Regions from separate parts of the Homo sapiens genome. Here region 2 is linked to region 1. Evidence: fine-mapped expression QTL. A gene starts in region 1. The other region holds a variant in brackets. All regions are shown on one strand. Distances are between the middles of the regions.

Region 1 (5,384 bases):
TATGCATGAACTCTGGCTTCCAACAGTACAACTTAACCCTTGCTCAAAGCTTTGCAAATGCTACCTTTTTATCCTCAAAATATGTGGTGAGCTATGTGGAAAAGAATTAAACTGCTTTTTATATTTCGTTTGTATCTTGTTACATGAAGGATTGAAGATAACTAATAAACTCAGCTCAGAGCTAGAGTGAATGTTCCTTTGAGAACTGAAACCAAAAGTTTGGCCATTCTCATTTCATCTTACATGCAGATCGGAGTTCTCCTTCCCCTTCCTCTCTTTCCTCGAGCGTTCAATCGTGTGTTTGCCTAAGAAACCATTTTTTCACTTGGTCAAGAGCTTTAGTGTCATTTAATTATCTTAGGTGCATATATTTTTTGTCTCATATTGATTGTTAGTCTTTTGGAGACATAGATGGTGATCCTGCATTTTTAAAAAATTCCTTTTGGGGTAAGGACAGTGACTTGTCTGTTGAAAACTTGGTACAAATTTGCTGAGGGAAGAGAAATCTAAAATAGATTAATTCATCAAAAAATTCCAGAGCATCAACTGTGTGCCAGCTACTGGGCTAAGCATGGAGGATTCAAAGATAAATAAAACAGAAGCCTTGTTTTCAAGGAGTTCGAAGACTCAAGGTTAAGGCAGATCCACAGAGGTGCCAGCCTTACTGCACTGCATAGTATTTTATATTAATATATACACATCATCTGTGTATAGAGTACTTCAATATCCAGAAAGGAAACAAGTCTTTTGAGATTTACCTGTTATGATTTTAGGATTTCTACTGCAATTGCCAGTAGCTTGATCTTTATGCCCTGGGGGCTGTCTTTGGGGCAGAAAGTATGGCAGTGCAGGGTTTGCAGGGATTCCGTTTGCATTCTGTGAACAGGTGATAATGTTTTTAATGAACTTAAGTTACATTCATTTTTTAATTGATATATAATAGATGTATATTTATATTTATATAATATATAATCAAGTCAGGGCTTCAAATTATTCTCTACTAGCTATTTTGAAATATACAATAGATTATTGTTTACTATTGTCATTCTACTGATTTATTAAACACTAGGTCTTATTTCTTCTATCTAAATGTATTTTAAGTCACACTCATTTCTGCCAGAGAATTCCTTGGACCCTCTGCATATATCCCTGAGACTCTTGAGGGTTCACTGACTCCCAGACTCTAAAGAGCTAGAAGAGGTTTTGGAGACCATGTCATCCATTTTCCCACCCTGGGGAAGAATCCTCTTTCTATGGTATTCCTGGCAATCACTCTGTCTATGCTGGAATATTTCTATGACAGAGTGCACTGTTTTTCTAGGCAACCCATTTCACACTCAACTGTTAATTTACATAGGGTTGGTACTTGATATTTCTTGGAAGAATAAACTATATTGAGCAAAATTTCCTCCACTGATCCTTGCTATCCTCTGCAGAGTACCAAGGAACAAATCTATCTCTTTTCTACTCAAGAGTTCTTGAATGTTCAAAAGTTGAGTAGAAAAAAGCTTTCTCTCCCTTGCATCTCCTCATCTCCAGGCATTCTGTGAAGTTTTTTCAAACCTCTCTTCATGTGATGGCACACCCAGGCCTGACAGAGAGAGCCTGCCTTGTGGTTGTTCCTATTTTCCAGTTCTTTGTGATCTCAAAGTAGCTACAGTTTCTAGAGTCTGGATTATGTTCTACTCATTGCTAAGTCAGGCAGCACGACCATATTCTTTGATGTGGTCATTGCATTTCTATGAATGCAGCCTCCACCAGCATTTGCTCTTTGGGGAGCCATCACAACACACTCACGATGGGCTTAGAGTCAGCTAAAACCACTAAATCCCAGCACTGGGTCCTCCACACGCTTGAGGACTATGCATTCTAGCCAAGTTGCAGGCAACAATATGTGGAGTTGGAGAGGGCAAAGTCAGGGAAGAGTGGCTGGCATATTGCTAGAGAGTCCCTTCCGATTTACCTCTGCTTTCTCCATAAGGACCAAAACAAACAAGAGAAACAACAGATTTAAGTAACAGAAACAATAAGGTAGAGTGCATGTTTGAAGAATTTCTTCGAACTCCTAGGTTTTACATACCGACCACATGTAGGTGATCAAATCGCTCAAGCAAGACAAAGGACATTTTCATTTGTTGTTTCCACGGTTTGAACTTTTCCACTAAATGGCCTCCTGCTTTTGCCGAGTCTCCACTTAAGCCTGGACAGTGAAGCTTGAATTAATATTGGTGATGCTGTCCGTTGCTTAAGACATGTCAGAGGGGTCACGGTTTTCCTAAGCTTTGAGGGGCTGCTGGACATTTCAAATGCAGCAAATGTCACAGAATAGCCTTTAAAAACCCTCAAATTGTGCATTGTTCATCTCTTTTTTAAGGAAAGATTTGCTAATATTGGGAATTTCCTGAGTGGCAGCTCTGGGTGTGTGATCTACACACACCTTCGCGCGCTTTTGTGTCAGGGGCTGGGCCCTGGTTGAGCACAGAGGTGCCCGGGCATATGGGCTGGGTGGGAACATGAGTAATGCCTGCCAGAGCCTCATCCACGCGAGGCGTGTGGTCGTGGACCCACTTACGACTACCAAGAGGACATGCAGTAAAGAAGAGAAAGAAAGGGAGGAAGAAAGTCTGGCGTCCCAGTGAGGGCTGGAAGCACAGTTCCAGGATAGGTCTGCTGAGTTCCTCAGAACCCCTCGCTCCCTGTCCTGCACTCAGCTGGAGTCGCCGATGCGACAGCATCTTAACATGGAAGTATACTGACGTCGGATTCCGGGGATGCAGCTGCTGCAAAAACTACAACTGTATTTTCTTGTCCGCGCACCACAGCCCGCCTCTCTCTGACCCACATTCCCCGGTCAGCTCTTGCATTCTGCACGCTTTTCATTCTCCCCCCACGACCCCGTCGACCAGAAGCTTCGTCGCCTGCCTCGTACTCGCGCCTGACTGCTCGTGAAGTACGAGCCTCCGCGGCCCTTACTTTGTTCCGGTGCGGATAGGCGGCGGGAGGAGCTGCATGAGGCCGGCGCTGACCGCCCGCCGCTGCGGGAGGCTGTGAGAGCCCGGCAGAGGGCAAGGGACGGCCACGCCCTCCTCCCGTCGCTATAGAAACGGCTCCCGCCCTTTTTATGACTCCAGAGCTGGAAGGGCTTTCTCAGGCTGTGGTCCCAAACCACCTTGCAGAGTAGCAGCCTGAAGAACATACTCCTCGTCCTCCTACTCGCATTCTCTTGCCCCAGTTCTTTAAAGTATAGGGCAAGAATTGAACAAAATCCCAGCATAAAGAACTTAAAGTTGGTTGCCCAGACCGGACACATGAAATTATCCCTACTCTCTCCCCTTCTTCAAGCGAAGCATGTGGTTATCAGAATTACATCACAGAAGTTCTGGCCGGGCGCGGTGGTTTTACACCTGCAATCCCAGCACTTTGGGAGGCCTAGGCAGACCACTTGAGGTCTGGAGTTCGAGACCAAACTGCTCAAAGTAGTGAGACCCCCCCGCCCCTGTCTCTATTTAGACATTTTTTTCTGTAATCCCAGCACTTTGAGAGGCCAAGGCGGGTGGATCACGAGGCCAAGAGATCAAGACCATCCTGGCCAACATGGTGAAACCCCGTCTCTACTAAAAATACAAAAATAAGCGGGGCGTGGTGGTGCGTGCCTGTAGTCCCAGCTACTTGGGAGGCTGAGGCAGGAGAATCGCTGGAACCCGGGAGGCGGAGGTTGCAGTGAGCCGAGATCGCGCCACTGCACTCCAGCCTGGCGACAGAACGAGACTGCATCTCAAAAAAAAAAAAAAAAAAGAAAAAAAGAAAAAGAAAAAGAAAAAAAGTAAGTACATAGCAAAAGTTCTGGGTAAAATCCATATATCAGCTGAACACTTTTTGAGTGCTTACTCTGCACCAGATTGTAGAAAGCATGAAAAGGGAAATTTGTAATTGAGTGGCAGTAGGTTGACCTGGAGGTGCACAGTCTGGTCCAGGCAGAAAAGACATTCAAATGAAGCTTTCTGAAAGAGCTGAGTTGAATCTGAGTCTTCAAGGACAGGCAGTAGTTGTCTACGTAAAGGAGGCAAGTCCTATTCTGAAGGCCAGAGCCATAGAAAAGCTTGGTACCATTGTGCCAGCACCCAGTTTAGTGGGGCAGGGATCAAAGTTGCACGTGGGCAGAGACAAGGTTGAAGCAGCAGGAAAGGGGGAGTCAGACACCAAGTAGGCTATGAACTCGACCAGGGTAAGGTGTGTATGTGCAGACTGCAGAGGGGTGTTCATGCTGACTTTATTTTATAAAACCCTCTGTGGCAATAACAATGGAAGTAGGCCCGAGTAGGTTAAGAATCAAGGCAAGGATGCCTGTTAGAAATAGTGAGTGATGATGTTTCAGAGTAAGGGAGAGCACATGGAAGAGTAGTTTTGAGAAATTTAGGAAATGGAGTAAGACTTGGTGACTGGATGTGAAAGTCGAGAGAAGACTCAATCCCAGGATGACACCTTTGGCACCTGCAGTGATGGTGGTGCCATTCATTTACCAACAGAAAACACAGGAGAGATGTCAGGGGTAGGAGGAGACGTTGAATTTAACAACTGATCTGCTACATCAAATTGTCAGTGGACCATCCACAGGTTCTGTTGTCAAGAGCATGGTATAGGGTACAGACCCTGACTTGGCAGTCACTGTCACATAAGTGACCCCTGGAGTTTGCATAGAACATGAAACTGGTAAGACAAGTAGGTAAAGGTGACACAACAGATTAGAAAGCTGCAAAATAATGAAGAGTAGGCATGGAGATGGGAAGAAATGACAAAGAAATGTGTCACATGAGCCAAGGAAATCAAATGTTTTCATCAGAGTATAATGAATAGGGTGTATAAGATTAGGTGAGAAAATTGTACACTGGGTTTGGCAACATAAAGGTATCAGTGCTTTCAGCCAGGCTGGTTTTAACATACTTTGAGGTAATTTTCAAATCCCCTGATAAACTATAAAGAACACGGCAAAAACAGGTTATTGAGCTGGTGCCAGATGATTAATCAATTATATCAGTACCTAATATACAGTAGGCTCTTATGTTTATTGTTGATCTACACCAAATAGAGTACCTCAGTGCTATGTAACTGGAAAATATGTTTTTAAAAAGGGGACAGGTGGGGCAGGTTAGGGGGCTGGTATATGACACTATAAAAATATACGTTAGATAAAAGAAGTGTACAACAGCAATAGACAAATGCTCACTTTAATCACAATTCTAAATTAATTATTTTCACATTAATATAGATATTTCCATAAACCAAGAAAAACTGAGTTATTATACATTTTTTAACAGCTAACATGATTTGAAAATTTTTTATTAAAAATTGATCAGAAGCTAGTTGAAATTCTCAATGTAAATATA
Region 2 (5,384 bases), 42 kb before region 1:
TCTTCTGAGCAGGGACCTGGCTATTCTCCTCCTCCTGAGCATTTTTACTGTCAAGACCCTGTTCCCACTGTGACTCCCCCATCCCATCTCCAACATGCTATCCGATTCCCCTGCTCATTATCTTTTACTTCTCTGAAAGACGCTCTTAATCACAGCCCTTTGGTATGTGGCCAGGGGAAAAGAATGAAATGAGCCTTAAGGTATGGCAGGTGTCTTCAAGGCCTGTGACACCTCATGAGACACACTAGGACTTACCAAAGAATGTCTGTCTCCTGGAGGCTGTCTGAATGAAGCCGGCTGGCGGCAGACCCAGCACCTTAATAAGGATAATTCAATTGGTTCATTCTTTGTGGGAGCACAGATTCAAAGGCTGAGGGGTGGAGCGTACTTTGGCCAAGCTTTGCCTTCTACAGATAAGGATTCAAAGCATTAAGTAATAACATCTGGTCAGTAGCAGAGCAAACCCAGAGCCTGGGCCTTTTAACTCCTAATCCAGGGCTGGTTTCATATCCTAAGAATCAACACTGGCCATGTTATTCTACACAAACATCAGCACCAACTAGGGGTGGGCCACCACCCTTGATAGCAGCCAGATGTCATTGTCAAAGCAAATAAACTAGTACACATGCTGCCATGTCAGAATTAAAGAATGATATATCCCACCATGGAGCACTGGAAAGGGAGAAGAAAAGATGAAAATCACCGGATGAGCATCAGACAATTATAAGACAAAATACCTTCTTGAAAAGAAAAGTGTAGCACCTACTTGTTCATCTTTTCCTACTGCAACTTAGAGGGGCACACAGAGATAAGGAAATTACAGTGTGGGTCACCTGCCCTTGCTGCTCGGTTCCCACCCATAATCCATCCATTATCCTGCTCTTCTGTTCCTCAGACCCTTTGACACTGAGGTCAAGAGGAAGCTGAGTCAGTTCTGGGGCTGTAGGAAATTTGAAACATAGGCCCCGTTCTCTTTGGTATTGGAAGCAGGAGTGGTCTGGGGATGCTTTATAAAATCATTCATTATCAACCTTAGAAGCCATCTTCTCTGCTCCCCTCATTTTATAGTCCAGAGCTGGGAAATGCCTAGTCAAAAAGACAGAGCCAGGACTAAGACCCCAGGTTTAATGACTCGCAGGCCAGTGTTCATTCCACCACAGCTATTTTTACCTAAGTTATTTTAATATTTTATTATTAGTTTCGATCATGAAATGAAATTATCTATGTTTAGTCATTCTCAAGGCTATATGTGTTTCTCTGTAACTTTGAGACAATCTGGAAAATAGAAATTTGGCAAAGATAGATAGATACAGATACATAGATAGATAGATAGATAGATAGATAGATAGCCAGCCAGCCAGCTAGCTTGGTGTTTGCACACAAAATATCTTTGTTCACTGGGAAAATCCTAAAATGTAAAATTTAAAATTTTTAAAGTTATTTTTCTATTTTGTCTAATTTATTTCCAAAACAAGATGGCTTTCAAGTGAAAGCATAATAGATATAATTAATAATCATATCATGAGTCTTGGTCAAGCCTTGCTATTAGGAGATAGTTTTCCCAGAAAACTGTCATTTCCCATAATGAATGACTAATGCCTGAACAATACACATACTTTGAAGTCAAATAATTTCCAATTCTTTGTTTTCAACATTTTAATCGGGTTGTCAGCTGACAGGCTGGTAAACATAATTTTAGATGACAGATCACCATTTGATTCTTACACAGAACTCAAAAGGAGTCACCGAATTAGACGACATTAATTAGAACAGGCTTCCTCACTGGGTTCACATCTACACCACCAAGCAATTGGAATCACATTGATCCCGAGCCCGGGCATTCTAGCAAGAAGCATTATTCACCTATGGGTATAGGCATTAATTTGGAAAAAAAAAAAAAAAAAAAAAAAAAACCCAGCTCTATTCATTTTTCTAAGAGCTGTATGCCCAATAAGATTTCACATTTTATTTTCAATAATTATCAAAATTTGCACACCAGATATATTTTAATGGTAACTTACCAGAAAGAAATTTTTACACATGAGGCTTACGGTATCAGGAAATTTTTAAAGCTATAATGATTGATAGAAGTTTCTAAACATAAACGTATATTAAATTAGAATAAAATTCCATAGAGGAAGTAGAAAAAAGAGTAGAAACAAAAGGGAAAAAAGAACAAAGTAAAATCATGGCACAACTCTTAAGAACCTGTTCACATACTATCAGATAGATTTTAATGGGTGTCATGTCCGTCTGGTTTTGCATTCTTTTGGATATTTTTGAAAGAGCGGTGTAATTTTATTTTAAAATGTCACTATTTACAATATGATGGAAATGACATCCTCTGCAACTATTTAAATTTATGATAAAACGTTAGATGTCGACTTGACAAGTACAAGGGAGTACACAATTTCAAAACTCCTTTTAGGGAATACTCAACAACAACAACAACAACAAGGTATGCAGGCCATGGTCCTGGGCGAGTCTGGTGCAGCCCCGTGTCTGAGGGCCAAGCCCACGGTCTCCGTGGGAGCCGACCGCCAGCCCTCCGCGTACCTCCATGATGCAGGCCAGCTGCTCCACCTCATTCTCCCCGGGGAACAGGGGGTAGCCCGTGTACAACTCCGCCGTGATGCAGCCCAGGCTCCACATGTCAATGGCCACGTCGTAGGGGTGGCCCAGGATCACTTCTGGGGATCGGTAGAACCGGCTTTGGATGTACGTGTATACTGCGGAGGCAAAGTAAGAGAAACCTCGTGGGACAAACTTCTTACCCTCCAGAACGCTCTCCCCCAGGACAACTTCTCAGTTAGACTGCGCCCCCGCTGGCAGTGAAAGGGAAGTGCAGCTGGCCAGCACTTAGAACTCCCATTACACCATCACAGCATCAAATCCGCCAGCAACCTGATTATAAAGGAGGTGTGACTGTCCCTGCTTTATTGATAACGAACTCCAACGTGGGCACTGTCGTAGGAAAGTGAATCTAAGTGAGCCAAGTTTATAACAAACAAACAAAACATAAGACAAATATAAGACTAAGTTTTCAAACTGTCAGATTGATTTGGGGTAGACAGCTTCTGAGTCTTGTGACTTGGCAAG[A/G]GAGTTATCAAGTTAGAAAGGGAGCATATCAAGTTAGAAAGGGAGCATGCAAAGTCTGTATTCAATATAGCATGTGCACTTATTGTATAGAAAGAAAATTCTCAACAGGTGAGGATGAACAGACTGAAGTCGAAGAAATGGAACACGGTAGTTATTTCCGCATAACTGGGGTTTCTGGTTACCTGGGGAGGGGCAGGGATTCTGTAACCACTTTTCTGTTGTTTAAATTGGTTATTGTCAGAACATAATTCTGTGATTTAAAACAAAATAGAGATTTAATAAAAATAATGTTTATATCCTGCCTGCTTCCCAAATGTGTTTGTGGTACTTTGCAAAGTACACATGCACAGAGTATTTTAGAACATGGATTTAATGGTATTTACATTATGTTTAGTATGTGCCAGGCACGATTCCAAGTACTTTTATAGATAAGCCCTTTCAACCCTTACATTAATTCTGTGAAGCAAGTAGTATTATTGCCTCCAATTTAAAGAAGAGAAAACTGAGGCATACAGAGGTTAAAATGTCAAGGTTACTCAGCTATAAGTGACAGAGCTGGGATTTGAGAGTAGGCAGTTTAATTCTAGCATCAATATTAGATACTGCCTCACAGTTAAAATAAAGATAAAAAAGATGTCAGAAAATATGCAAAGGGGGAAATGACTGCTAGAAACCAAGGATAAAATAATTACGAATTCAGTTCCGAGCATCTTGGCAGCCAAGATAAATGAAAACTGAAAAGTTACACAGCTTTCAACATCTGAGAAGGGAAAACATACAAGTTCTTTGTGGGAAGCATTACTTTTTAGCTGGAATTTCTTATAGGATTCATACATAAAGACACAAAGGTTTTATGTCCTCAAAAATTGATCTGCCAGAGAGGCCCAGATGGAGGACACAGAGGCATGCTGTTGCCATGGCAGTGTGGTCCTGGCTGCTGCGGAGGCAGGTGCCAGGGTCTCCCTTGCCTCGATGTGAAGAGCTTAGAAAGCGGAGGAGAGGAGAACTCCCCTGGCCGTCTCTGTGACCCCAGCCGCCGCATTTTACACAGACAGGAGGGAAACAGAGGGAGAGAAGGGAAGGACGGTGTGGAGTAGAAATATTAATGGTGGGAGAGAGGAAAATGAATGAAAATAAAGAGACTGATTCAAAAGAAAGTGAAGAATACAAAGATGAATCTGAAAAGGACCTGGAGGGGTTAACTAATGAAAATGAAAAAAGTGATGCCAGCATAATAGAGATGGCTTGTGAGAAGGAAGAGAATATTAACCAAGACTTAAAAGAGAATGAAACAGTAATAGAACACAGCAAACAGCTTTCTGATCCTGACAAATCTTTGCAGGATGAGGTCTCACCAAGAAGAAATGACTTCATTTCGGTACCGAGTATTCAACCTTTGGATCCCATATCAGATTCAGATAGTGAAAACTCTTTCCAGGAGTCCAAACTAGAAAGCCAGAAAGACTTGGAGGAGGAAGAGGATGAGGAAGTAAGGTGATACATTATGGAGAAAATTGTACAAGCTAACAAGCTTCTATAGAATCAAGAACCCGTGAATGATAAAAGGGAGTGAAAATTTAAGCTCAAGGACAAATTAGTTGATCTGGAAGTTCCTCCACTAAAAGACACTAATACTTACAAAAGTTATTTTGAAAATGAAAGAAATATATTTGGGAAACTGTCACAGTGATGTATTTCCAATGATTTGGGACAAGAAAATATGCTCCTGTCACTTATTAATGGAAGCTGTGAAATAAACAAGGATAGGACAATACTGGTAGAGAGAGATGGAAAATTTGAACTTCTGAATTTACAAGACATTGAAGAGTCAGGGGTATTTGCCTCCCATTAATAATGCAAATAGTACAGAAAATGACCCTCAGCAGGTGTTACCCAGATCTTCCAACTCCTGTGTCAGTGGCATCAAGAAAGAAGATTCTGCAGCAAAGATTGATGTTGTCACTCACTCATCAACAGGAGAGCCGTTGGCTTATATCCCTCCACTTATAAGTTGGCTTATATCCCACCACTCAACCGCAAGACTTGTCCAAGCTCTGCTGCCATCTCAGATCGAAGTAAAGGGAATGGGAAATCTAATCAGGACAGTCTGCACATATCTCATCAGTGACCTCAACATACTGTCTTTCCCCTTGACAGAAAGAACTACAAAACGAGAACAAAAGAGAGAAAAGCTGAAAAGAGAGGAAGAGCAACAGAAAATAGAAGAAGAGGAAGAAAAAAAGAGGGAGAATGGCATAGTATTTAAAGCATGGTTGCAAAAGAAA

The links. PIP is the estimated chance that this variant, and not a neighbour inherited with it, causes the effect.
Region 2: its variant is fine-mapped to the expression of DYRK4 in whole blood (TOPMed, PIP above 0.99).

What each region holds. Positions count from the first base shown.
Region 1 is chr12:4,559,873-4,565,256 of GRCh38, reverse strand. It overlaps DYRK4 (dual specificity tyrosine phosphorylation regulated kinase 4), which reads right to left and starts at 3,049. Exons shown (of 15, transcript NM_001394779.1): 1 at 2,974-3,049. The coding sequence starts at 3,011. RAD51AP1 (RAD51 associated protein 1) reads right to left here. Exons shown (of 9, transcript NM_006479.5): 9 at 5,210-5,384. RefSeq lists a silencer at 2,920-3,214.
Region 2 is chr12:4,602,259-4,607,642 of GRCh38, reverse strand. It overlaps DYRK4 (dual specificity tyrosine phosphorylation regulated kinase 4), which reads right to left. Exons shown (of 15, transcript NM_001394779.1): 11 at 2,557-2,729; 12 at 256-316. It also overlaps the pseudogene LOC103568124. Among named protein-coding and RNA genes, the nearest start is that of DYRK4, 43 kb to the right of the region's middle. RefSeq lists an enhancer at 2,483-2,822. The variant A/G (reference allele first, on the strand shown) is at 3,100.